Linked DNA regions of Homo sapiens. The protein of the gene in region 4 purifies or fractionates together with the protein of the main gene of each other region. This does not show direct contact. Each region holds a gene or a part of one and is shown on either strand. Other genes may lie near its edges.

Evidence for each region.
Region 1: the proteins of AURKC (region 4) and FKBP5 purify together in Homo sapiens (affinity purification with mass spectrometry; 3 studies listed by BioGRID and IntAct, with this or other methods). This does not show direct contact.
Region 2: the proteins of AURKC (region 4) and MYH1 purify together in Homo sapiens (affinity purification with mass spectrometry; 3 studies listed by BioGRID and IntAct, with this or other methods). This does not show direct contact.
Region 3: the proteins of AURKC (region 4) and MYH4 purify together in Homo sapiens (affinity purification with mass spectrometry; 3 studies listed by BioGRID and IntAct, with this or other methods). This does not show direct contact.

The regions. Positions count from the first base shown.
Region 1 is NC_000006.12:35,636,916-35,643,915, reverse strand, and holds part of FKBP5 (peptidyl-prolyl cis-trans isomerase FKBP5), read left to right. Parts: intron 1-1,072; 5' UTR 1,073-1,091; coding exon 1,092-1,196; intron 1,197-6,757; coding exon 6,758-6,902; intron 6,903-7,000. UniProt on the Homo sapiens protein: Immunophilin protein with PPIase and co-chaperone activities. Component of unligated steroid receptors heterocomplexes through interaction with heat-shock protein 90 (HSP90).
Region 2 is NC_000017.11:10,515,535-10,522,717, forward strand, and holds the start of MYH1 (myosin-1), read right to left. Parts: upstream 3,009-7,183; 5' UTR 2,986-3,008; intron 2,737-2,985; 5' UTR 2,706-2,736; intron 1,149-2,705; 5' UTR 1,109-1,148; coding exon 905-1,108; intron 809-904; coding exon 665-808; intron 549-664; coding exon 392-548; intron 1-391. Other genes in the region: MYH2 (myosin-2), read right to left, coding at 5,746-5,898. UniProt on the Homo sapiens protein: Required for normal hearing. It plays a role in cochlear amplification of auditory stimuli, likely through the positive regulation of prestin (SLC26A5) activity and outer hair cell (OHC) electromotility.
Region 3 is NC_000017.11:10,466,531-10,474,055, forward strand, and holds the start of MYH4 (myosin-4), read right to left. Parts: upstream 3,030-7,525; 5' UTR 3,007-3,029; intron 2,807-3,006; 5' UTR 2,758-2,806; intron 414-2,757; exon of another isoform or gene 255-413; 5' UTR 216-254; coding exon 12-215; intron 1-11. UniProt on the Homo sapiens protein: Muscle contraction.
Region 4 is NC_000019.10:57,227,188-57,234,051, reverse strand, and holds the start of AURKC (aurora kinase C), read right to left. Parts: upstream 3,030-6,864; 5' UTR 2,939-3,029; coding exon of another isoform or gene 2,938-2,938; 5' UTR 2,804-2,937; coding exon 2,746-2,803; intron 2,311-2,745; coding exon 2,265-2,310; intron 2,020-2,264; coding exon 1,828-2,019; intron 1,511-1,827; coding exon 1,372-1,510; coding exon of another isoform or gene 1,367-1,371; intron 593-1,366; coding exon 444-592; intron 1-443. UniProt on the Homo sapiens protein: Serine/threonine-protein kinase component of the chromosomal passenger complex (CPC), a complex that acts as a key regulator of mitosis.

The DNA.
Region 1 (7,000 bases), on a different chromosome or scaffold from region 4:
CAAAGGTAGAGGCATTCTAGGGAATCTAAATATGAACAAAGCATGGACCTTGCTCTGAAGGATCTTTTAAACCTAACAGGCGCATAGTCTTATGAATCTCTTACAGACAACAAATCGAGAGAAGAGCTAAGGAAGTACGTAAAAGGGCAAAATGGCCTACAAATAGAGGGTCAAGGTTGGTATGACAGAAGTAGGATTTGAGAGAGGTGGATGTTTTGGAAACAAGAAAGGGAGTGACCAGAAGAATGACTATGGGAAAGCACTGGGTTTGTTGTAGAGGTGGAATTGGCCTAGTTTGGCTGGAGCATGAGCTGCATGAAAGAAAGTAAAATAAAATAATGGCAGCTAGAACTCAAAGATAGATTAGGGCCAGATTGTGAAGGGCCTTGAATGCCACATGGAAGAACATTCTGTAGGTATTTTGGGCAGGAGATGAAAAATGACCCTACAGAAGGCCCAATAATGATGATAAATGGTTAAATATGTTTAAGTTACCAATCTATGCTAATCTTTTAAGAAATGTTATCTCACTGTAACTATGAATAGTGTACTGTGTCCATTTTGCAGATGAAAAATGAAGGCTCAGCAAGATTAAGGAAACTGGAAATGTCAAGAGCTGCAGCTAGGACCCAGACTTGGGTCTGTTGGATTCTAAATCCTGTTCTGTGTCTCACTGTGATTGATATATTGTCACTTCTTTTATTAAGAACTGATAAGGTCTTAATCCTCTGTCAAGAATATGGCTGTAGAAAAAGGATGTTTTCAAAGTTGTGAAGGGACTGCTTCTCACCATGTTATGTTAAGGAATGTAATCACTACCCAACTTGACTTGTACTGTTCTCTGTTTTGAGACCAGAGCTAGATGGGAAATTAAAGAATTGGATGATGTTTTATTTACATGCCTGATGACATCAATACATGCTCATAGCAAATGCCTTTGTTTTCATTTTCAGTATCTAAGCTTATTGGCCCTAAGTAAATCTTAGGTTAGGTAGAGCTCAGTTCCCAGGGACATTCAAGATTCATAAAGAAGTGATATTTTTCCCAGCTAAAATATTTTTCTTCTTACCAGGTTCTCTACTTAAAAGACAATGACTACTGATGAAGGTGCCAAGAACAATGAAGAAAGCCCCACAGCCACTGTTGCTGAGCAGGGAGAGGATATTACCTCCAAAAAAGACAGGGGAGTATTAAAGGTGAGGCCACAAAGCTGAGTGACATACAAGGAAACCTGCTGTCTGGAAAGATTATAGCATCTCTTTCTGAGGGGGGCTGGGGTGGATAATGTTTATTGATGGTTACTAAGTGCCAAACACTAGAGCTAGATTCTCATTTTGTCTTCATAACTTCAAGGTTTTTTTTAAGAGTTGAGTCTCGTTATGTTGCCCAGGCTGGTCTTGAGCTCCTGGGTTCAAGTGATCTTCCCATCTCAGCTTCCTGAGTAGCTGGGATTTTCTTTTTAAATTAATTAATTAAATTTTTGAGAGAGGGCATCTCATTATGTTGCTCAGGCAAGTCTTGAAATCCTGGCCTCAAGCAATCCTCCCACCTCAGCCTTCTGAGTAGCTGGGATTATAGGCACGAGCCACTGTGCCCAGCTAGAGATTTTAATTTTTAATCCCAGATTATAGATGTTGAAATTGAGACTGGGCTAGGTAAATTAACTTGCCTAATATCATATATCTTAGTAATGCAGATTTACCTGGGGTTCAGGTCCAAGTTATATCTCACTCTAAAGGGCTATATTTCCCTATTCTCAGAGTATACAAATAGGTTACTATTTTAATGTATCCTTTTAGTACACTAAAGCTAGCTAATGACAATTTTGAAGACTTTTTAAGGAAAGAAAAGCTAACTTGAAAAATTCAAAGGGGTTTTATTTTATTTTATTTTATTTTATTTTATTTTATTTTATTTTATTTTGAGACAGAGTCTCCCTCTGTTGCCTGGGCTAGAGTGCAGTGGTATGATCTCAGCTCACTGCAACCTCCGCCTCCTGGATTCAAGCAATTCTGCCTCAGCCTCCCGAGTAGCTGGGATTACAGGCGCCTGCTACCATGCCTCGCTAATTTTTGTAGAGACAGGGTTTCACCATGTTGGCCAGGCTGGTCTTGAACTCCTGACCTCAGGTGATCCGCCTGCCTTGGCCTCGCAAAGTGTTGGGATTACAGGCATGAGCCACCGTGCCCGGCCCAAAGGGGTTTATTTTTATATATAAATATTGTTCCTGTGTACAGTGAAGATATCTTTTGCGATTTCCTCTTAGAATATATCTTACTTTTGAATTAGCTTTCCTACTTATTAAAGCACTATACAGTCATTCACCATATAATGACATTTCAGTCAGTGACAGACTGCACCTTCAGCAGTGGTCCCATAAGATTATAATGGGGCCGAAAAGTTCCTATGGCCTAGTGGTGCCATAGCTGTTGTAGCATGGGTAGTACAGTGTATTATGTGTTTGTGGTGATGTGGGTGTAAACAAACCTACTGCACTGCAGTCACAGTTATGTATAGTACATAATACTTGATAATAAATGTTTATATTACTGGTTTATGTGTTTACTATACTTTCTATCATTATTTTAGAGTGTGCTTCTTATTTTTTAAAAAGTTAACTGTAAAACACCCTTGGCTGAGTGCAGTGGCTCATGCCTGTAATCCCAGCACCCTGGGAGGCCAAAGCAAGAGGATCACTTGAGGCCAGGAGTTCAAGACCAGCCTGGGCAACATAGTAAGACCCCTATCTGTAGAAAAAAAATTAAAAAAATTAGCCAGGCATAGTGGCATGTACCTGTAGTTTCTACTACTCAGGAGACTGAGGCAGGAGGATCATGTAAGCCTGGGAGTTCCAAGCTGCAGTGAACTATGATCATACCACTGCATTCTAGCCTGGGTGAGAGTGAGATCCTGTCTCAAAAACAAATGAACAAACAAAAAACAGCCTTGGGCAGGTCCCTCAGGAGGTATTCAAGAAGAAGGCATTGTTATTATAGGAGACAGCAGCTCCATGCATGTTACTGTCCTGAAGACCTTCCAGTGGGACAAGATGTGTTGGTGGAAGACAGTGATACTGATGATCCTGACCCTCTGTAGGCCTAGGTTTATGTATGTGTTTGTGTCTTAGTTTTAAACAAAAAAAAGTTTAAAAAGTAAAAGAATAAAAAATTTAAAAAACAGAAAAATGCTTATAGAATAAGGATATAAAGAAAGAAAATATTTTTGTACAGCTGTACAGTGTTTGTGTTCTAAGTGTCATTACAAGAGTCAAAGCTAAAAAAAAAGTTTACACAGTAAAAATGTTATAGTAAGCTAAGATTGATTTATTATTAAAGAAAGAAGAAAAATTTTAAAATAAATGTAGTCTAGGTGTCCAGTGTTTATAAAGTCTACGGTAGTGTATGGTAATATCCTAGGCCTTCATGTTCACTCACTGCTCACTCGCTGACTCATCCAGAACAACTTCCAGTCCTGCAAGTTCCATTCATGGTAAGTGTTCTGTATAGGTGTACCATTTTTTTTCTTGTATACCTTTTATTACTGTACCTTTTTCTATGTTGAGATATGCTTAGATACACAAATACCACTGTTTTACAATTGCCTGCAGTATTCAGTGCAGTAACACAATGTACAGGTTTGTAGCCTTGGAGCAGTAGGCCAAACCACCTAACGTGGGTGTGTACAAGTAGGCCAGGCCATCTAGGTTTGTGTAAGTACACTCTGCGATGTTCACATAAGGATGAAATCATCTAAGAACACATTTCTCAGAACATATCCCTGTCCTTAAGCGATGCATGACTGTGTGTGTTTCTTCACTCTATAGTTAATCATTTTCACGTGCATTTCTTTTGTTTTGTTTCTTACAACAATGTGGTGAGACAATCAGAGCATCTCTTGATTCTTCCATCTTATAAGTGAATAAACTGAATCTGAGAAAGGTTAAGTGGCTTTAGTCACATTAAATAGTTATTTCTCCTACACCATTGTTAACACATGTAAGTTTTGTATAGTTAAGTTTTGTTTTTCCTGAAAAGATTATCTGATGCATTCTGAATATTACCAGGATGCTGAGTTTTAATATCTCTTGTGCCAGCAGTAGCAAGTAAGAATTTTTGTTTTGTATAACTTTGCTTATGTGAAAGCCTTCTGTGCCTGGATCTCTTCTGAATATATGTGAATTGCTATTATGTGCTAAGTCAAATTTTGGGGACTTGCAGCTATAGAATAAGGGCTTTATGCTATAGATTTACATCCTATTGTCTTTTTTTAGAAGGCTTCTCAACCTTGTAGCTATAGTTACTCATCCTAAATTCCAGGAAGCTTCTAGAAACAGTGGAGACTTTGCAGGCTGTCCTCAGCATCTCCCTGCCTCTGTTTACGACTTACCCTTTCATCTTTTCAGAGTGCCCATGCCCAGAGAACATGATCCCCAACTTGCCTCAGACCCTGTTCTGTTCTAGGGAGTAAATCTAATTGCAAGATTTTTAGGCTTATTAAGAAACATTTGAGATTTGAAGCCCTTTAAATTATATCATTTATCATTGTCTAGAGCCTCGGATTTCACCATGAGGCTTTTGGTTAAGATTTAAATAGGTCTAGTAACTGTGCAAGCTAGGGCAATTTAGTTAACCTCTCTGTGATTAAGTTCCTGTTTGTAAAATTAGAATAATAATGCCATCAACCTCATAGAGTTATTAGGATTAGGTGAAGCACTTAGCATAGTGCCTGTCCTATAGTAATCTATCTTATTAACTATTACGTATTTTTAAAAAAAGAACCAGTGCTGGTTTGGAAATTCAGTAACTATCTGAGGAAGATAAAAGATGGATTTATATTTTAAAAATGAATAGAACCTAGATTGTGTTCTTAAGGCAACTCTAGATTTAGGTACAAATTCATCTTGCTAGGGAAGCCTGAAGTGATACCATAGTACCACTTGCTGGTGTGGATGGCTCTCTGACTCTCTGGTAGCCATTCATCCCACATGCCCAGTTACTGTTTATAGTCCTAGAAATGCAGATTCCTTCCACGTGAGGCTTACAGTTGAGCATAGCCTCCCAAATACCACATGCAGTTCGTGAACATGAGCACTTGTAGAATATTGTGTAATATCTTTTAGATTAATGTTTTGAGACTTTTTTTTTCTTTTGAAGTCCTAGAAGGGCAGTAGTGTTTCTTTGCCTTTAAAGAATATTTGGGGCTGGGTGCGATAGCTTATACCAGTAATCTCAGCACTTTAGGAGGCTGAGGCGGGAGAATCATTGGAACTCAGGAGTTCCAAACCAGCCTGGGCAATGTAGCAAGATCTCATCTCTACTAAAAATAAAAAAATTTGCCAGGCGTGGTGGCATGTGCCTGTAGTCTCTGCTACTCGGGAGGCTGAGGTGGGATGATCACTTGAGCTGAGTGATAGAGGCTACAGTGAGCTATGATTGTACCACCGCATGCACTCTAGCCTGGGTAAAAGAGCAAGACCCTGTCTCAAAAAATAAAATAAAGATGTTTGGGCTTTTGAGTTAAGAAAGCTGTGGAATTTAAGTTCACAGTGTTTATGTGATATTTATGTTAGGTGGACGGTATACTTGTAAAAAAAGAATTTAGGAGCAAATAATCGAATTATTTAAATAAAACTCAAAGCAAACTCCTTCCCCAAAAAGATGTTCATCAGATGTTAGCTACCATCCTCTGTTATCTACCAAAAATGATTAATTTGGCATAGATTACAAATTAACAAATTACACCATCACACACCTGGGTTTGATTTTCTTTTCCCAGAACTGACCAAATACATTAGCAGCTTGCTCTGCCAAGAACAAAATAAATACACTGGATTTTACAGTAGTTAAATACTTTACTAGAAAACAAGTTATTCAGTATCATATCAAGCAGTGCAATGATACTCATGTTTTTTACAGATAGACTATGTTTCAAATAATAGGAAATGTAACCTGTTTTACCAGGAAATTGGGCTTTCTGAAAATAAACAAGCAGAATCTAGTCAGGAGCTAATGTTTTTAGCAAAGGAGGGAAATAAAATTACACCTTTGAAGCTTTGCTTAAGCTTCTTTTTGAATATTTTAAAAGTCCACCATTCTTTCTGGTCTAAGTCCGTGTGTATATGGACTAGCTCACAAGCCTGTGTTAGAGAGTTTAGTGTCGGGCGCGGTGGCTCATGCTTGTAATCCCAGCACTTTGGGAGGCTGAGGCGGGTGGATCACGAGGTCAGGAGTTCGAGACCAGCCTGGCCAACATGGTGAAACCCCATCTCTACTAAAAATACAAAAATTAGCTGAGCACGGAGGCGCACGCCTGTAATCCCAGCTACTCGGGAGGCTGAGGCAGGAGAATTGCTTCAACCTGGGAGGCAGAGGTTGCAGTGAGCCGAGATCGTGCCATTGCACTCCAGCCTGGGCGACAGGGCAAGACTCCGTCTCAAAAAAAAAAAAAAAAAAAAAAAAGAGTTTACTGTCAAAATATAGGGCATTAAACCAATGAACAGGATTTATTGGTTAATTCTTTGAAGGAATAAATAGTGCGATTAGCAATAAAAGTAGATATAACATAAAAGACAAGTTGGTAAAGGACAGTTTTCTAACAATGAGTTATTGTGAGGAATGAAGGGAGGCATTAGAAAGAATGGATAATAGTATATTTGCATATCTGCCTGGATGTCTTGGGATGGACTGTGTGACCTTTTTATTCTCTGATTACAAGTAAAAAGTTTGACCTCCTTTTTCTTAATGTTTGTCTTTTCTAGATTGTCAAAAGAGTGGGGAATGGTGAGGAAACGCCGATGATTGGAGACAAAGTTTATGTCCATTACAAAGGAAAATTGTCAAATGGAAAGAAGTTTGATTCCAGTCATGATAGAAATGAACCATTTGTCTTTAGTCTTGGCAAAGGTAAGAGGGTATTTTTTTGAGTTGTGTTTTACTTAGCTTTATTACTATTTGTAATATATAGGAGCAGAGGATTCTATCCTTTCTAAAAGTAAAGAAAT
Region 2 (7,183 bases), on a different chromosome or scaffold from region 4:
AAGAAACTGAGGCACCAAAAGGATTGAACTCCTATTTTTCATTTCTATTCAGATAATACATGATTTATATGATTCAGTTGTTACTTAATCTTGGCTCTTATTACTTAAATATATAAAATAAATTGTGTGTTTCCAAGCAAGGAGACCATAAACAAATTAAACTTAATGGGATGGAGTAATAGCATGGCCTAGTAAAGTCAGTGAGGTGTAATCAGGAGAGCTGTGTTTTAATACGAGCTTTGACAGTATATACTTCTCTGTGCTTTAGTCACCTCTGCTGAACAACCAGGGGCGTGAATTGGGTTTTTTTCTAAAGGTCTTTTTTTAGTTCTAATATTTTGTGATTATGGATGGTAAAATAATTCATATGAAAACCAGCTGAGCCACTCACCAGTCAGCATGAACTGATAGGCATTGTCAGAGATGGAGAAGATGTGGGGTGGGGCCTCCTGGCGCTTTTTGCCTCGGTAGGCTGTCACCACCTCTGCATTATACACTGGCAACCACTTGTAGGGGTTGACAGTGACACAGAACAAGCCTGAGTAGGTCTGCACCCAAAACAAAAGGGAGGAACAGAATTATTTGATGGGGACCTTAATCATCTACTACTTTTCAAAAACTATTAACTACTCTCATGAGTAGAAGACCGTGAGAAAGAACTCACGTAGATCATCCAGGCTGCGTAGCGCTCTTTGAGGTTGTACAGCACAGCAGGCTCGTGTAGATGAGTCATCATGGCCATGTCCTCGATCTTGTCATATTTGGGAGGGTTCATGGGGAAGACTTGGTCATCTTTCACTGTTACAGTCTGTCCAGTCAAACAAGAGAGGCCAGATCAAAAAGTAAGTGCTAACTTAACCCAAAATGAGGCAGAGTCTAATCAGCTCCAGGTGTTTTTACTCACAGCTCCAGCTTCGGTCTTAGCTGTCACCTTCCCCCCTTCCCTGCTCTGCACTGTTGCTTTCACAAAGGACTCCTTAGGGTCCACCACAAAGACTGATGTCTTGGCATCAAAAGGCTTGTTCTGGGCTTCAATTCGCTCCCTTTCAGACTTTCGGAGGAAAGGAGCAGCCTCCCCAAAAATGGCCATCTCAGAGTCGGAACTCATGGCTGCAGGTTATTGATGGTAGCCCAGTTAAGGACCCTGGCTGGGAGAGGAAGAAAAGAAATTGTAGAAATTAAGAAACTGGACCATTAGATTCACATTTAAAACTTTAAAAAAAAATTTACTGACCAATTGAGTGCTTAGCATTGCATTGGGTATGACCACCTCCCTGGCTTGGTTGAGGATAAAATGTCAGTCTCCTTGTTCTGTGCCAGTGCTGACAGACACTTAATCATGCATTTGGAAAGAGACTGTTGTTTCTGGCTCACCTATTGCAGTCTCTTAGCTGCTTTCTCTGTTTCATTTGTTAGGTATATTAATCTTTATAAGCTGCCTATCATTGGCTTATAGAGAACATAAAGCTATAATGGTGGCAGGATAGTCTCCAGTTCTTTCACTTATAGTTTTTATCTTCCCAACTGGATTATAAGCACCTTGCAGGCAGGGAGCACTCTTCTTTTTATGGTATCCTTCACACCTCTTAGAACAAATGCTGGACACAGAGAAAGGCTCAAAGCTGGCTTGGTGAATTAAAAGAACAATAGGAATATGTTGCTATAATTTTAGGAACTATTCTGTACATGACAGAAATATTTTCATTATAAACTTGGGAGTTACGAAGACTTCCTAATATACAGGAAAGCAGAAATGTGTGGCTCTTTGTTTTGCATTGTTAAAAAATGTTCTGTTATCCATCAATTTCTGTTGTCTCTGTATAATAATTTTGACAAACTCAACTTCTTCACTGATCTTTAGCATTTCTTAAATATTTATTATAAAACGTTATTACCTATGTTTTCTTGCTCTATTATTAACATTTTTATAACAATTTCACAAAACTTGTTCTTTTCAGGATCCCCCTCTTGCCACATTAGCTAGCATTCATTAATGCTGTCAATAATCTTCATGTATATTCTACTTTATAATAATAAAGATACCTTTTCCAGGGAAGCTCATTTGGATACATTTCTCCCATTGAAACTATGTTGACTCAGATAACATAATTAAAATGCTTCATCTTGCTGAATATGCTGACAATCATGTTTCGTATTGTGTGTGTGTATATATACATATGTGTGTGTGTGTGTGTATATATTCGTTAATTTTTATTTTATAGATTGTGAAACAACATGCAGTTAAGCAACTTTTTCCAAGGCAAAGATTCAGACCATTCTATTTATCCAATTAGACATCATCTCTCATAGGTTTTTATATTTATAGTGCTGAGGAAAAGCCATGGTATAGAAAATTTAAATTTTCTCTATAATTGAGTAACACTTTGAAATGTTACATTGCATATTGTAATGCAGTCATTTAAAAGATAAACTACAATGCTGGAAATAGTGAATGAAATTCACTATTGTGAATAAAATTCCCAAGGACTCTGAGAAAGCATTTTCATATATTGCGAGGGATATGAGTTAAGGAGAACCAGTTTCTAAAGTCATTCTCCATTTTTTAAGAGAAGCGTGATCAACCATGAAATGGAAATGATTTTTTTTATCACTTCCCTCACCCCGCCCCTCACCACTGTCCAAACCACTGCAGAAGATTCCTTGCACTCTGTGAGGAATGAGAAAAAAAAAAATCAGAATCTTACCGTAGAGATGCGACCTTAAAGTGGATCAGAACTGTAAGAAAAAGAGCAAACCTCTTCTGATTAAATTATAACAATTCCCGATTATAGAACAATTCTTAACTGAGAACCAGGAAATGACTGGGAAGACTACAACATCTAATTAAAATTGCTACGGAGTAAGCTGGTGCTTCACTGGCAGGGCTGCCAGGGACAGTGGGAGCCAGGATGTGTGGCATGCACGCGGGCAGCCAGACATCCCTTACCGTCCTCCAGACAGAGCCCTGTCCTCACACACACTTACCTTGAAGCTTTATGAGGAGAGACAAGTCATACTCATTCCAAGGGTACTTTTATAGGCTCAAATATGGAAAACACGTAACCTCCTCCTCTTTCTTAAAACATATTTGGCAAAACATGTTTTTGGCATTGAAGGTCTCCAAGCCTAATTCCCCTCATATTAAAGATGTTTGGATATAATTAGAAATATTTCCTCTCATATTGGGTTAAGTATATGAATCAATCTCCTATAAATAATTTGAGTCGTTGGCAATCTTAAAGTTGTTGGCCTTTGGAATGTAAGGTGTTGTTTCAAAGACAGCTAAGTTCTGGAATCCCTGGACTTTGTTGCCTACTGCTCTTCTGTTTCACAGAGTCGCCTGTGTGAAGTCTTTTCAACTGCCTGCGCAGTTACAGATAGTGTACTCGGGAGGAAAACTTCTGCTCTTTAGCAGAGGGTTATAAAAACGTTGCTTTCTCTCAAAAAGATTTCCTTTTTTTTTTTTTTTTTTTTTTTGCAATTTATTGTGCTTTTTCAAAGTTGCTTGGAAATTTAATTTTGAAACTTGCTTCATGAAGAGCAGCCAAAGATAGCTTCTTTTGTTTCCTTCAATCAGTCGCCTCTTATTCATTGTCAAATCATTCCACCGGCACTTCGGACTTGCTCCGAAATTGCATTGCCTTCCAAACAGAGATGTCCTGCTTCTCTCATTTTTTTTTGGTGCCCAAGTTGCTTGTGAAATCTTGTTTCCTCTATGAAACTCAACATAAGAAAATATTGGAAACAGGGTATTTCTCTGTCTAAATATGCAGCATCGATGATTTTTCCTCTATCAGCAGTCCATGGGATATATTTAGTATTTTGCTTACAAACAATACCTGAATATTGTTTTCTATTTTAATTTTTTAAAAAAGTTTATTTTACTGTCTTTGTGGCCTCACGTCTCTGTCTGTCAGCATTGTCTGGCTAGGACTGGGACAACATTTGCTTAATATACCTGGTTTTGCACCCACATCTGTATTATTGTACTTATATCTCAATTGATTTAATGGCTATAGCTTGCCTTATGAAAGGAGATATCTGGATATACTAGTTGTAAAGGTCACATAGTTTTATTACCATAAGGGATCATCTAATTCATCTTTCTCATTTTACTAATAAAGCAACTGAGATCCAAAAAATAGAAGAGAATCTCCACAAATCACACAGCAGTTTAGACTCTGGTCATCTGACTTGCGGTCCAGCGTACTCACTTGTGACACTCTTCTACCTGGGGTAGATTAAAGCCATCAGGAAGGGTATTGCAGGGATGTGCGTCTGAGAGGGCCTTTCCTAGCCATCTATTAGCCTGCTTTGTTACCACAGGTACCTAATTTTACTTTCTTACATGTCTGTTTCTTTACTAGGCACCTGCAAAATGTGGGTAATGATTTTCAGGAAGATAAAACATTTTAATAATGCTCTCAATAGGATCTGATGGGAATCTTCAGACAACCTTTTGTCTTGCTCTGGATAAACTTTTCAATAAGTAGGAAGTAAGATATTGTTTTTGTTTATTACTGCCACGTTATAAAGCACTTAAGCAATTCCACGTGATACAGGAACAAAGTGAAAGAGGGGCTTATGCAGCGAGAAGAGCAATTCCACACCCTTTCTAAGGCCAGTGCGACAGTGTGAATCCAACTTACCTGTTAAACTACCATGTCTAATTTACATCATTTTCACACAGTGCCATTTAGACCAAGATACTCTTGCTTTCTATTTGATGGGAAGTTACCATTTAGCTCTTCCTTTATTCTGTCGAGGAAGGTTATATTTTTGGCTATGCATCTCAGCTGCATCCAGTTTAAAAATCTTGATCCTCTAGGAAAACGTCTCTGAGTGGTCCAGATTGCTATGATATCTACTTTTTGTACCAAACTCATACCCATCATTATGTGTGTTGAATATAGATTTGAATAACCTACTTTGAGATCATATTTTCTTGACACTTTTAGTCATTTATTTTGGCTCTTTATATGATTATCTGGGAGACCATAAAGATTGGAAACATAAGCTAATAGCTCATGGATACTACATTATAACGTAAAAATAATATTCTCTATGTCTCCAGATTTGATAGACACCCTGTAGTTTTCATAGGGAGAAGAGTCATATTTAATTTAATTTTGAAACTTGCTTCGTGAAGAACAAGGTCGTGTCAAACCCATTACCCAGTGCACCTACTGTGGGCATATGGTACATTGGAATTGATAATGTAAATATCCATGGGCTAATTAAGAATATTTTGTATTTATATTCTTGATAACAGTTATTCAACAAAGAGAATTAATGATACAATTCAGTTTGAATCCCCTATGTGAGAATATAGCTAGTACTATCCTGAAAAAGGTTCATGTTAGGGGAAGCAGGAGCTTTCTAAGATTTTACTGTACTCAGATATCAGGAAAGGTTAGAAAGAAATAAAATAGACTTCCAAATTTCTGTTCATTAGAACAGTCTTTCTGGATAAGTGACATCTTTACAGCCTTAAAGTGTTGCCGTAGACCCCCAAAAAAGTCACCAATTGAATGTGATTGTTTGACAACTCTGGTGACTATTCAAACTTTGACATGGCTTCAGGAAAGAGAAAAGACAAGACCAGTCTAAGGATATTGTTTGCAAACTACCCTATGCTTTATTTCCTTTGCAACAGGGTAGAATACACAATAATTACAGAGGGAAATGACCAAAGATGTCACATTTTGTGCCTGTCTTCAGTCATTCCATGGCATCAGGACATGATCACTCTTCACTTATGACTTTTGTGTGAACCTCCCGGCTCTTCACCCGCAGTTTGTTCACCTGGGACTCAGCAATGTCAGCCCGTTCCTCGGCCTCCTCCAGCTCATGCTGGAGCTTGCGGAATTTAGCTAGATTGGTGTTGGATTGTTCCTCCTGAGAATAAAAATGGAATTGTAAGGAACTCATACTTGCATCTTTCTAGACTCTTTAGACCTAATAGAAGAAAGGACTTGGCATCTATGGAGAAGCAACATCTAGGGATTATCATTGAAATTAATTTTAAGATTTGTTTATTGATGTCATATATATATATATATATATACACACACACATACATACATACGTATCTCACATTCCTATTTTGGCAACCAAAACACATAAAATATATGTACCACAAGTAGAATAAGAAGAAAAATATAAGCTTAGAGAGGAAGGCAAGAATATTAAAGTCATAGTTGTTAATGCTTGCTATAAGATGATGATTTTCCCTTGAGTTAGATTTTTTTTATCATATTAAGAATGAACTTATTAAGTTTTTAAAAATTGAAATAAATATTGGATTTTGTCATGTATCATTTTGGCACATTTCAAAATGGTTACTTTTTTCCTCCTGCATTGGATGTAATGATTCTATTGACAGATAACCTAATATTAGGTAATCTTTACATTGTAAGAATTAACCTTATTTAATCACTGGAAGACAATTCCTTTAATAAAGTAAGACTTACTACTTAGTAATTTATCTTTGCTGTAACTGTCTTTATGAGTAAAATTGCCTTTAGTTTTTCTCCCTCTGTCCTCTCTTGGGCAGGTTTTGGTATGAGGGTTATGTGAGCTTCTTAAAATGAACTGGACAGCTTTCTATCTTTTCCCATGCTCTTGAACAGCTACATAGCTGGGGGATTATCTGTTCCTTGAAATTTTGAAAGACCTATCTGGACTTGGGTCCATTTCCAGAAGTAATTCAGCCAACTTAGTAATTTATATCCTCCTAGAAAAATCATCAATTTTTTTCAGGGTTTCAACTTTATTGATAGATGTGTTTTATATTAAAAAATAATCCTCTATGTATATAGCTTATTCCCTTTCTCATTTCTAATGTTGTTTATATTTTCTCTCTTATTTTCCTTGATGAAACTAGTTATAATACATTTATTTTATTAATTCCCCAGAAGTTACAAATATTACTGAAGTTATCAAATAGAAAATAGTATACTCTAATTCACCAATTTCTACTTTTATTTTTAACAGTACTTCTTACTTCTACTGTTTTATTATTATTTATAATTTATTTATTGGACTGTCTGTTTGTTTATTTTTACTTTTGGTTCATAATGAAAGCATTTAAAGCAATGAATTAGCCTCCTAGCACAGCTTTGACTACATTCTGTAGGTTTGTAAAAGTAGCATCTTCCTTGTGATTTTACTTATAATTAAT
Region 3 (7,525 bases), on a different chromosome or scaffold from region 4:
TTTTTACTCACAGCTCCAGCTTCGGTCTTGGCTGTCACCTTCCCCCCTTCCCTGCTCTGCACTATTGCTTTCACGTAGGACTCCTTAGGGTCCACCACAAAGACTGATGTCTTGGCATCAAAAGGCTTGTTCTGAGCTTCAATTCGCTCCTTTTCAGACTTTCGGAGGAAAGGAGCAGCCTCCCCAAAAATGGCCATCTCAGAGTCAGAACTCATGGCTGCAGGTTATTGATGGCAGTACTGGACTAGGTATACCTAGAGGAAGAAACAGAGCCAAATGATGATTCAGGGTTGGGGTGGAGAATTGTTCTGTTGATTTCATATTAATGTGCTTAATTTTCCATGCTTGTTTCCTCACCCCTGCCTTTAGGGACCACTCCTGTATACTATGTCAAGGAGCTGAGAGATCAGCTCATTGATTTGAAAGCACTATGTTGATAGCTTAATTTTTGTGATACTTTAAGCCTAAGTTCCATCCTCTATGTTGTAAACCTTAGTTGAGAAATGTGGAGGAATCAACATTCAATCAGCAACATTTGTGATGCTCCAAGCATGTTCAGAATTTTTTCTTTTTCTTGCTACTTTTCTTTTCTTTCTTATTTCCAACTTCCCCCTCTTAACATCGTGATGATACAAAGAAATGGACAATAACTGTTTCCACTGGCTTTACAATATAAATGAACCTGTCTTAAAAACTCAAATACAGATCTTTATGCAAATTTTCCTCTCATCCCAAATTATTAAAATTGGATGTCAGATTTACTAAAATTGAATGTAGACAGATACACCTGTTCTTTCCGGACATAAGTCCAGATCTAATCATTACAAATAAACACCTAGTTAACTGACAGGTATTAGGTAAGTAAAGGAAAAAATAACTACAATGAAAGCTGAATATCCAACATATAATTTTGCCCTAAGTTAAAATTAAAATCTCCTTTATTAGTTTTGAAATTGTTTGAAAGTCAGAAGTAGTATCTAAACCAAAAACAACTTTAAAAGATTCTTGGAGAAAAGGAACTTCTTAATTTTTAATAAAATTTTATAGTGATTGTATGTGTTGATCTGTATTTCTCTTTGTTTTTAGTTGGATTTCAACCTAACATATTTTAAAATCTGATTCTTATTTTCTTAGGTTTATAATCTCGTTCTTTCTTCTCCTCTTTTTAAAAATACCAACCAGTCTTCTAAATATTTTTCTGAAATGGATAGCCAGTATAAAGTTTCAAGCCAAAATGAACTTAAAAAATTTTCCCTACTGACAAATTAATTATGAGAAAATAAAATAAGTCCTGCTGTCCTGATGGCAAGGACAGGGTGAGTGGCCAGAATAAAAGAAGGTGACCTCTGTGGAGCAGAAGTGTCTTGGTTGCCAATGACAATGACAGCAATGATGGCGACAACAGCAATAGCCACCACCTTCTGTAGGCTTTCCAGAGTCTTGATCTTTTGTCATCAGCATTAACTTTCCCTCAACTTAAAATGTTAGCTATGGAATTTCCACATACTCTATTTTCAAAATCAGTCTTATCTGTAAAAGTGTCCTGATGACACTGTGAAACTTAGACATATTTTCAGGGGATATATATTGGAACATTTAATGTCAGGTTTTTTTTCTTTGAAGAAGAAATGTTATTTATATTACATTATATTTTGTTTCTGTGTTTGTTTTTACACCAGGCAACTTGAATTAACAACACACTACCACGTGGAGGTTACTATAATGCAGTGTATCCAGGAAACACAGAAAGATGATTGCTACCCTTCCCATCTCCTGTCTTATTATAGATTAATTGTTTCCCAACTTGGGGATCAAGCCCCAATAGAGCCTCAGGTTGTTGCAGGGGGTTCTTGAATCCACCCACACAGTGATCATTGCCTCAAGTTTAAGGAAGGAACATTTCCACATGAACAGTGTTTTCTGTTCTTTTCTAAATGAATATAGCTGCTATGTTAAATATAAACTCATTTAAAATAATTCTTAAGTGTAGAATAGGTTTTCATGATTATATATATCCTTAACATCATACTAAAAGTACATGTCTCCACATGAACAATTAGCAGGATTCCATTAGTTTTGATTCTCCATTAGCAGGGTTCCATTAAATGTTTTGATTCTGTGGAGGAGTCCTTGAAAACCACTGACGTCAATCACAGTTGGCAAGAGCTGGAAGGACCTTAGCAGTCAATAGAATCCAGCCTCCTCGTTTACTGATGAGGAAACTAAGGCCTAGAAAGGTTCAGGGTCATTCAGTGTCATAGTGGTGGGTGATAAGTGGCGGTACTGGGACATGAGTCCTGTTCCGCTAAATGCAGGTTTGTTAATTCCACTTGCAACACACTGTATTTCAAGATACATAAAGGCTAACTGGCTTGACCCAGGCAAATAGAATCAGTGAAAAGCCTGGATTGGCACCTAGAAATATCGACTTCCAGATAAACACACCTTGATTTTATCATGCGGTCTCTCTGATATATCTTTATGGGTTAAGTTGGAGTAGTAGTTCACATTAAATATTACATATGATGGCTGCATTCTTTCTGTAGTTCTAACAACATGTGAAAGAGAAGTTTCATTAAGTTTTGTTTGATTAAGTGGCCTGAAAAGTCAAAATTTTATGAGAAGGCATTTTTAAAGAACAGCTGCCCCGATATCCTATTCCCAATACTAAACTAGGAAATAAAATGGTAGCTCATTAAGATGTAGCAATATAGAGATTCCTTTGTTCTTTAGAGTGTAATAATAAATTATTCTTACCTCTTGTATTATCAGATGAAGAAGGTGGCAGGCTCAAAGCAGACAACTACTGTTGAAAGAAAAAAGAGAATGTGGGATGCTTTTTTTTCCCCATTTAATCACAAAATACTAGTAACTATATTGTCTACAATGTCGTCCTTAAGAATGTTGGAAAGAATAATTAAAATTTGGGAAGCAGTAGACATCCCTTAAATGAAAAATCATCATCATCAGGAATGTAAAAGTAAGTGTTCTTCCACATATACATACCTTCAAGAATTTTGAGGAAGGATGGGAAAGAGGCATCTCAGCTCCACTTTTATAGAGACCATTCTGCAAACACAGCAGCCACCTCAGCTGTCCTAGCTGGGAACCTACTTGGCAAAACCGTTTTTGGCAATCTCTTTGCACAATATTCACTGACTGTGGCTGTGAATGGATATAATTAGAAATATTTCTTGACACCCATAAATAATTTAACAGAGGATGATCTAGGGTTCTTTATAGGCATTTGATAGGGGATGGGGATTCAGGGCTTCTAACACTGTTTCTCCAGTTTGGCTGTTGCATCATTCATCACAGAATTCAAAGCCAGATTCCCACTTACTCCTCTGCCTATAAAATTGGTCCAACAGAATGAGTCTGATGTGAGGAATTTAGGATTAATTAATTTGTTGGTTCTTAGAGCCATTAAGGAGTCTGGAATGAATTTTAGACCTGACACTATGATTGGAAGCAGTGAGCGATGGATTTTAAGACAACATTCCTAGCCACAGTCTGGATTTTAGAAAGACTGGCGATAGATTCTTTTAAAGTCTGAAAGTCTAAATATGAAGGTGAAAGTGAATTCTCAGATTAGGCAGTGGTGATGGACCACTGGGGGAGGCATAAGGGATTTAGAATAGATATAAACACTTCTGTTCTTTTTCTGGAGGACTTTCCATGGATATCTCCAGCTTGTATGTTTTCACTGAAGGAACAACAGGATGCTGTGTGATGTTCCATGCATGTTTCCTCTGCATAATGGAAGGAGACACAAACATGCATTCCTAGTTCATGGGCAGACTCTCATGACTAGCTATAGCTCTAATGAGGTGGGAACCACATATTTTTATTTAAGGTGGGAGGAAAGTCATGGTATCCACGATATTCTCCCTGTGGATTGAAAAGATGGATGGGCCATCACATATGCCCATAATACTCATAAATTGGCTTTTGATGGTTTTGCTACATACACAGCTGTTACTGAATATGGCAGGAAATATACCTACTCTAAGTGTGACCCTAACTGAGCTCTGGTGAGATATTTTCAACTATCATTAGCTGGCTTAAATTACCAATTAATGAGATCACTGTTTTTATAATTCTGTTGACTTAGAATTTATCTTTGACACATTGATAGATTGAATCTTTTATACTTTAAAAATTTATTTTGATAAAATTCTATGAAATAGGTCATCAGGCGTTAAAAACAAAATCTCCATGAAAATAACTCACCGAAGTCTAGCGACTTACCCAAAGTGCTAGGCTCTAGGCCAGAAGGAAACTTGTTCTATTTTTTCTCTCAGATTTTCACAACTCATTTATTTTTACTTCTTTTGGAACTTAACATCTGACTTGCAGACATAATAAGTATGTATTATATTTACTGTATTTGAAGTTGAAAGATGAAAGAAGAAAATATGAATGAGACCAAGATACATAGATGAGTTATAGGATTACAGATAGTGAGGACTCTTTACATAATAGTTAAAACTCTGATCAATTACAGATAGACTGATCACTCAGATTTTGAAAGCTCTGAAACAAGACCATAATATTCTAGTGGGACCCCTATTATGGGCCACCAGGAGTGGATCAGAGAACCTTGCAGAGCTTGGACAAGGAGAGAAGAGAAGCAGCACTGGGTGAGGGAGTACACATTTCCCTTAGACTTGCCTCTTAAAGGATTGTCTACATAGAAAACACAGGAGATTAATGCGAAGGCTTTTGTATTTGTATGGTTCTTTGTGATTAGATATGAGTGGGAAGAATGGCTCCAATCTAAATAAGGAGAATTATTTTGGAAACTGTCTTTAAGCAGTCTGTGTAAAAGCTGCTCGCTCTCTACTTTCCTCAGATTAGGAAATATTATAGGCTTCTATAACCTTGCATTTCCTTATCTATTAAAAACATAAATGTGGTGAAAATCAAATACTGCCTTCACCTTACGGGGTTGTATGAATTAAATTAGATTTTATATATATAGGTATCAGAAATTATATTATTATATCACATATGGGAGATTATGTATACTTTATTATATGCAATCTTATGTAATTCATACATGCACGTATGTAAACTGCTTAGGATAGTGTCACCAGGGGCAGCTGAAGCAAACATTTCTTCACTAGAGATGAAGGTCACAATGGCTTGCTGGTATTTCTCCCAAATATACCCAGGGAGTTAAAGTGGTAGTAAAGAGCTGAAGACAGATGGTAGATAGGAAATGTCTAATGAACAAGATTATTTTTTTTCTTTTAAAAATTTTGTTTAAAAATACAGTTGGGACCTAGGTTGGAGATGTTCATGTCTTAGCTTCTATAGTGTCCAGTGTGGCAGCATGACATTAATTTAAAAAACCCTTAAGATTCAGCAAGTCAGACTGGTGTTTGTCTTCTTTTAAATTTCTCTGAGACTCCAAAGGGCCATCACTACTGAAAAGAGGTTGTATAGTCACTTTCAAGTCAACTACTTTTATTACATTCTACATAGTTATATTTCATCATGTGGGTAGGTCATTGACTCACTTGTTTGCTCAATACATACTTACAGAGTGTCCGCTATGTGTCAGCTGTTGTTATAGCACAGGGGATAATGCAAAAAACTGGCAAAGCCCTGCCCTTATGGCAATTTCAGTCAGCAGGGGTGGATATACATAAACAAATAAACAAGTAAATATGTAGTATGTCAGATGGTATTAACTACTATAAAAGGAACAATAAAGCAGAGTAAGGAGTAAAGGGAATACTGCACCAAGGGGAGTGACCTGGATGGGCTTCTGTATTAAGGTGTCATTTGAGTAGAAGTTTGAGAGAAGTGAAGGAGCAGGCCATATGAATATCTGGAAGAAGAATTTTCAGACAGAGGGAGCACAAAGTACCAAGTCTCTAAAGTAGGAGTATGCCTAAAGTGTCTAATTTGTGATAACACGTATGAACCTTGAGAATATTATACTAGTGAAATAAGCCAGGCACAGAAAGACACATACAACATGATTTCACCTATAAGTAGAATCTGAAGTTGAATTCACGGAAGCAGAATAGAATAGTGATTACCAGGGATTGAGGGTTGGGAGAAGGAATTAGATGTTGATTAAACGATATACAATTTCAGTTAGGAGGAATAAGTTCAAGAGATCTATTGTACTGCATCATAACTATAATTAATAACAATGTATTGTATACTTGAAAATTGGTAAGAAAGTTGATTTTAAGTGTTATCACCACAACAAATAAGTATGTGAGGTAATGCATATGTTAATTAGTTGAATTAAGCTATTCCAGAATGTATACTTATTTTAAAACATCATGTTGTACACCATGATATGTGTAAATATATATAATTTTTATTTGTCAATTTAAAAAAGCAGCAAGAAAACCTGTAACAGGAGCAAAATGGGCAAAGAGGAGAGTGGCAGGAGATGAGTTAGGAAGGGTCAGGTAATGTAGGTCCTTATGGGACTATAGGGACTTTTTGGCTTTTAATCTGAGTAATATGGGAAGCCAGTGAGAATTTTAGGAAGAGAAGCAATAAAATCTGACAGAATGTAAAAATCACTCTGCTTTCTATGTTGAGTGTAGACTGCAGGCATCAAGGGTAGGCCAACAGTGGGCAGCAGGGCCAAGGATAGATAGGCATTGCCACAATGCAGATGGAATAGAGTAATGGCTTGGACTGTGTCCTAGTGACTATAGCTGCATAACAAATTACCCGAAATATGGTGGATTAAAACAGCCATTTTAGAAGGCACATGCATTCTGTGGGTCAATAATTTGGAAAGGACACAGTGTTCTCTCTGTTCTCCAATATCTGGGGCCCCTAAGATCCCAAATCCTGGGGGTGATTCAACACCTAGGGACAAGTACTTATAATAATGATTAGAGAAAAAAAGGATTGTTGAGAAGGATAACAAATAAATGAAGTGGTATCTGGAGGCAGACATGGGGTCAAGATAGGAAAAACTAAGCATATTGTTAAAAGATGGGCAAGATTAAATATATTTGTGTTGGGGAGAAAAATTCTGTGAGTTAAACAAATTGATAATGCAAAAGATGGAGGGGCTAGAATCCAGAGGCTAAATGGAAGGGTTGGACTCTGATGGGAACAGGAACACTTTGTGTATTAGGAAAGAAGACTGAGAGTGAAGGCAAGTTTTAGCTTAGTAGATTTGATGCTGAAAAGATGAGGGAGTTGGTACTTATGGGACAGTAGGGACTTTGGCTTTTAATCTGAGTGATATGGGAAGCCATTGAGAATTTTAGGAAGGAATTCTGCTTGCTTCTGTTTTCTCAGTGACGTACGCAGCAAAGTCATTGACTGAGTGGAAGGCAGGGGAGGAGATGTAGTGGGTATATAGAGAGAAGATGTGAAGTGTTCATTTTGGAGAGTGAAAGGTATACTACATGTCCCCAGAGTACTGAGAGATAATCATGAAATTAAAGTGAGACCTGTTTAGCAAAGTTACATGCTTTTTTCCCACAACTTTGTTTGCTTGGATGTGTCCACAGAAAAGATGAATATTTGGGTT
Region 4 (6,864 bases):
AAAGAAAAAGGCAGTAGTTCAGCCAGGCATGGTGGCTGACGCCTGTAATCCCAGCACTTTGGGAAGCCAAGGTGGGCGGATCACCTGAGGTCAGGAGTTCGAGACTAGCCTGGCCAACATAGCAAAACCCTGTCTCTACTAAAAATACAAAAATTAGCCGAGTGTGGTGGCACATGCCTGTTATCCCAGCTACTTGGGAGACTGAGGCAGTAGAACCGCTTTAACCTGGGAGGCCGAGATTGTGCCCCTGCACTCCAGCCTGGGTGAAAGAGTTAGACTCTGTCTCAAAAAAAAAAAGAAAAGAAAAGAAAAGAAAAAGGCAGTATTCCAATAGAAACCCCAAGTTCGTATCTAGGTTTTACACATGGACACATGAAATACATTAAACTGGGTCATTCCTAACTGGTACTCAGAACTCACCCTACCACCACCACCTGACCTACCTCAGGGAGGGGGTGTGCACAGACCAGCCAAAATCTGCAATCTTCACCTCACCCCTGAACCCCAGCAGCAGGTTCTCTGGCTTAATATCTCTGTGAATCACTTTCTTGTCATGGCAGTAGGTCAGGGCATCTGCCAACTCCTCTATTATCTGTGGGTGCAAAGAAAAGTCACCCTGGAAGTGAAGCCTGCCACAATTTCCGTCTGAGGTGGAACACTTACCATGAATTGTATGATTACAGTGGAATCTTTTTGGTCCAGTAACTCCATTTCCTCCTTTTAAATTGCACCAGTTACTGGTGTGTGGGGTGTGGTTTTCCTCTCCTTTTTATGTGGTCTTATAGGATGGATGGTAACATGGACACAGATCCTCCCTGTTGTCCTAGCACAGCAAGTAGCCAGACATAGAACCTACATTGAGCCACTCAGATGATCTCTCACAGGACTTGAGGCCCGAGGAAGTGAAACAGAAACAGGAGGAAAGATGGAAGACCACTCATCCTGACACAGCAAGCTGATTGGACCATTGCTCCTGGGAAAATCATTGCCATGGTTCCCTTTCCGGAACCCTCTAGAAATCTCTTTGTACCTATCTCTAAGCCAGTTCTAGCTATTTATTCAGTGAACTCCTTCAGAGCCTTTCAATATGTTTCTTTACATAAGGCAGTGGAGTTAGATTCTGTTGCTTATAACCAAAGAATCCAAACCTATACGCAGTACTTATTAATATTCTGGAGATACAATGAGGTTAATTAGGGTATCCAAGGATAAAGCTGTAGAACATACGTGCCATTATATTAAATTTACACAATAACATTCAGAAGTAAACTTCTCAGAAGGCAATGCGGACCCTCCTGACAGCCACAAACAGAGCTCCCACCAGCCCACAGTAAACTCAGAGACCCCAGAGCCTCCAGACCCGCACCTCACCGTGGCTGTGCGCTGTTCATCTAATTTCTCGCTTTTCTGCAGCTCCTTGTAGAGCTCACCCCTTGGAGCATATTCCAGAATCAGGTACACCCGGCGTGCATCATGGAAATAGTTATACAGGCGCAGGATATTGGGGTGTCTGAAGGATTAATGTTGGAAGAGTCAGATTTCTCCCTGAGGCCTATCATATGATGCCACCGTCACTGCCTGGTCACACAAGTGGCAAATTATGCTGGGACCAGAATAACAACAGCCCTATCTGGGAGCAAGTGAGGGGAGAACGGAGAACAGGAACCAGGATTCGAGTGTCTGACCCAGGGTAGGAGGTAGTGTAAATGGAATGAACTGCAGAGAAGTCTTCAAGGTACAAGTGCAGGGTTTACTTGGGGTTAGTATTTGGGGAAAATGCTGGGCTCAGACGTCAAAGATGAAAGAGGAAGCAGAGACTGTCCTTACTGTAGATGAGCCTGGATCTCAATTTCCCGGCGCAGCTGGTGCTCCAGTCCTTCCTTCTCTATCTGCGACTTGAAGAGAACCTTCAGGGCCACAATGAAATGGCTTTCCTTGAGCCGAGCCAGGTACACATTCCCAAATTTCCCCTTGCCCAGGGGACGCCCGATTTCAAAGTCATCGACTGTGAGGCGCCGCCTGACAGGAGAGGAAGAAAAAAGCCTCAGCTTGGGAGGTAGGGTAGGCGGAGGGAAAGTCAGGGATGCCAATGCTCCCCTTCCTCTTTCATTGTATCCTTCCTCTGCCGCTTTCCCTTCTCACACAGACCCAGCCCTATCAGTAGTTCTCGTTCCCAGGAGCCAGCACCCCACACACCCAGTCTGTTCTTCATCCCCACGTCCCACCTTCCTTCCTTTTCCAGATACCAATCCCAAGGGACTCACATGGCTGGGCTGCTGGGCTGCTGGGCTGTTTGGTTTGCTGTAGCCACTGAAAGAGAGGAGGAGGAGGGAGATAGGAAGGGAGAGGGGAGGGAAGGAGAAGGGGAGAGAAAGAGAGGAGAGGAGAACAGTAGAGAAGGGAATAGGGAGCGAGAGGTGAGGGGAAGAAGGGGAGGAGAGAAAGAGAGGGAAGGGGAAGGCAGGGAGAGGGGGAGGGAGAGGTAAGGGGAAGAAGAAAGAGTAAGGTAAGGTAGGGAGGGGAGGAGGAGGTGAAGAAGAGGCAGAGAGAAAGGAAGGGGAGGAGAGAGTAGGGGAGGGAGAGGTGAAAGAAAGAATTGGAGGGAAGGGAGGGAGTGGGGAGAAAAGAAGAGCGTTGGGGAGGAGGAGAGGGAGGGGAGATGTCAACACATGTGTCTTCTGTGCACCCGACCCCTGGCCCAGTCCCCAGCCTTCCCTGCGTCCTTTCTCTGGCGCTGGCTCTCACACTCTTCGCCTGCAGGTTGAGCTTTGCCCAGCTGCACCACAGCTCTGGGGGAGCTCATGGGGAGAAGAGGTGAGGGCGCGGACGCCTTCCTGAACCCTCTGGATGGCTGTTCCCGTTCACAGGGTCCTGAAAGGGGTGGGGGGTCACTTTCTGGCCGGGGCGCTTCCAATCCTGCTCGTCCTGCAGCCTCACTGATGTCTCACTGCTACACAGGCTTCGGGATCCGCGGCGTCGTGAGCAGCCGTGGCTGCGCGGCCTTCTTTTATACCCGGCACCAACCGCTCAGAGAGGTACTTCCTGGCTGGCTCCTATTGGCTGAAATTCCTGACGCCATCGGAAGTGCGCCCAATAGAAAGGACAGAAACGGGAGCCTCAGTCCAGGGTTCCCGGGTTGGGGCGGAACTGGAGTGCTGCGGTCCGGGCTGGGCACTGAAAGCGAGGGCCAGGGGTGAGGCCCGAGAAGGAAGGAGACAGAGGGTGCGGAGAGGTGGTGATGGCCGTTGTGGGAATGAACAACGCATACACCCACGGGGTGTGCATGCGTCAACTAGGAGAGAGCCGCGATGCACGTGGGAATGAACAGACGCCCACTCCTGACGTGCTGGAGCCTCGTGCAGCCCGTGACCCTAAACCACTTCGCGCCTTGTGCAGCCGGCGACCCCAAAACCACCTTGCTTCAAGGTCACGTCCGATTCAGGCCACTCTCCAGGGTCACCGCGATGGGGCTCCCTGAAGCCTGCGGCTGTGCCTGCTCACAGCCAGGACGCCACCAGTCCAGCTCACTTACCCCTCTCCTCCCACTCGCCAAATATTTGTTGGACCCTGTAATCAGTTTGTGGATTTGGCCTCAGATCGTAAAATCAGCCCCCACGTATTTGTTTAGCAAACACATAAGTTTCAAAAACATTAAAAATTGAATTCTTTTAGACAGGGAACATATCTTGCAGAAATATAATTGAAGGCCTGGCGTGATGGCTCATGCCTGTAATCCCAGCACTTTGGGAGGCCGAGGCGGGCGGATCACCTGAGGTAGGCAGTTCGAGACCAGCCTGGCCAACAGGGCGAAACCCCGTTTCTACTACAAAAATTAGCCGGGTGTGGTGGCGCATGCCTGTAATCCCACCTACTCAAAAGGCTGAGGCAAGAGAATCGCTTGAACCCTGGAGGCGGAGGTTGCAGTGAGCCAAGATCATGCCACTGCACTCCAGCCTGGGCGACAGAAGGAGAACGAGACTCTGTCTCAAAAAAAACAAAAACAAAAACAAAAAAACCCAAAAACAAAAAAGCTCGTCTCAAAATATTTGGGGAGACCTATTTGAGTAATAAAACTCTGGTCTCTCATTTAGCTCGATTGATGTGAATTAAACCCTTTATTGCAATTATCCTGTCTTGATAAGTCGACTCTATCTGGGGAGCAGGGAAAATAATGAACCCATTAGGTGGTTACAATAGGTGGATCAGGGTAATGGCGCTTAGCTCAGGCCAACCATTCCTTTCTCAGAGGCTTTCCCAAACCTGTCTGTTTGTTTGTTTATTGAGACGGAGTCTTGCTCTGTCACCCAGGCTGGAGTGCAGTGGCTCGAACTCAGCTCATGCAACCTCCGCCTCCTAGGTTCAAACATTTCTCCTGCCTCAGCCTCCTGAGTAGCTGGGATTACAGGCACCTGCCACCATGCCCGGCTAATTTTTGTATTTTTAGTAGAGACAGGGTTTCACCATGTTGGCCAGGCTGGTCTCGAACTCCTGACCTCAGGTGATCCACTCGCCTCGGCTTCCCAAAATACTGGGATCACAGGTGTGAGCCACTGCGCCCAGCTCCAAACTGTCAATTTAAAACAGCCCCCACTACAACGTCATCCTGTTCTGTTTTTCCTTAGGTCACTCATAACCATGTGAAAGTGCTGTTTTATATATGTGTATATTGTTAATTTAATGAGTATCGATTGAGTGCCTATCTTGCAACAGGCACTGCTCTAAAAAATCAGATATGTACATAGCAAAATAATTATGCATTCCTGTACTTGAGGAATTTTTTTTTTTTTTTGAGATGCAGTTTCACTCTGTCGCCCAGGCTGGAGTGCAGTGGTGCGATCTCGGCTCACTGCAACCTCTGCCTCCCAGGTTCAACCAATTCTCCTGCCTCAGACTCCCAAGTAGCTGGGACTACAGGTGCACACCACCACGCCCGGCTAATTTTGGTATTTTTAGTAGAGACAGGGTTTCACCATTTTGGCCAGGCTGGTGTCGAACTCCTGACCACAGATGATCTACCCACCTCAGTCTCCCAAATTGCTGGGATTACAGGCGTGAGCCACTGTCCCTGGCCCTCGGGGACCTTTTAATTCCAACAATCAGTAACTCAAAAAGAACAACCACAACCACAAAAGTAAACAATATAGAAGGTTAGAGGGAGGTAGAGTAGTTGGGAAATGTCTAAAAGACAGTTATATCTGAGCATGGACTTGGAGGAATGGAGCATCTGAGGTAACAGGGTCTCATAGAGAGAGCACCTAAGACAAGGGAATGAAAGCAGGAGGATCCTGTCGTGTTTGGGGAAGTGCAACAAGGTTAGTATGGCTGCAGCTGAAGATAAACTGAATCACAGAGATAGATGGACGTGAATTCTGTAGTGTCCTGGAGGCCACAGTAAGGAGGTCATATTTTTATTTTTAGTTTTGAGACAAAGTCTCACTCTTCCACCCAGGCTGGAGTGCAGTGACACCATCATGGCCCACTACAGCCTCGAACTCCCAGGCTTAAGCAATTCTTCCACCTAAGCCTGCCAAGTAGCTGGGACCACAGGTGCATGCCACCACATCCAGCCAATTTTTAAAAATTTATTCTTTTTAAAGATGGGGTCTCACTATATTTCCCAGGCTGGTCTTGAACTCCTGGGCTCAAGCAGTCCTGCCTCAGCCTCCCAAAGTGCTGGGATTACAGGCGCGAGCCACTGCGCCTGGCCCAAGGATGTTGTAATAGGCTCCCTGTGTATTCTAGAATATACCTGGGATTGTATTTAGTCAGGCAGGGTGTGACAATCAGATACAGAAGTGATTATTATGGAGGAAGTTTATAGTAAGAGATCCCTAGAAACAGGAGGCAGAGCACACCATGCGGGTGGAAGCACCAGAGCAGGTTAGAAAGCAGCAGCAGAGGAGAAAGCAAGGCCCAGAGCCTGCGCTGTGTTTTCCACCAGAAAGGCAAGGCAAGGCAGGGCAGGGGCAGCATAAACAGAATAGGATTTGCTACTGTGAATAATGTTGGCAGGTTTTAGGACACAGGCACTGTCCGCAGCTATCTGATATCTGACCCTAGAATGAATTAGGGCCAACTTCAGGAAAACAACCTCTTGGGGTATCTTGCCTGGTAAGATTTTTATGTCGAAAACCATAAGTAGGTCCTGCTGCACGTTTGACCAGATAATTTATGCTAACAATATGATTCATGGTGGATGCTGGCTTTTGCATGCATGAGGCCCTGGGCCATGCTATATGTTTGTTTTCTGCAAGGGTTGTAGACTGGATATTTATGGTTATTCATGTGGGTTCTGCATTCCTACCTCAATGACCCTTAACGAAAACTCTAGACGTCAAGGCTTGGGGGAGCTTCCCTGGCTGGCAATACTGTGAATGTGTTGCACACAACTTTGCTGGGAGAATTCAGTGTGCCCTTGTGCAACTGCACTGGGAGGGAACACCTGCTAAGTTTGTGCCTGTGCTGGACACAGTGGCTTCCACCCGTAATCCCAGCACTTTGGGAGGCCAAGGCGGGTGGATCACTTGAAGTCAGGAGTTCCAGACTGGCCTGGCCAACATGGTGTAACCCCATCTCTGCTAAAAACACAAAAATCAGCCAGTGTGGTGGCACATGCCTGTAATCCCAGCTACTTGGGAGGCTGAGGCAGAGGATCACCTGAACCTGGGAGGCAGAGGTTGCAGTGAGCCGAGATTGTGCCATTGCACTCCAGCCTGGGTGACACAGCGAGACTCCATCTCAAAAAAAAAAAAAAAAAAAAAGAAAAAGAAAAAAGAAAAAAAATTGTGCCTGGTTTCTCACAGATTTCCTCCTATGTGCCTTTTACCTTTGGTGATCTTGGTCTCTATCCTTTTGTGGTAATAA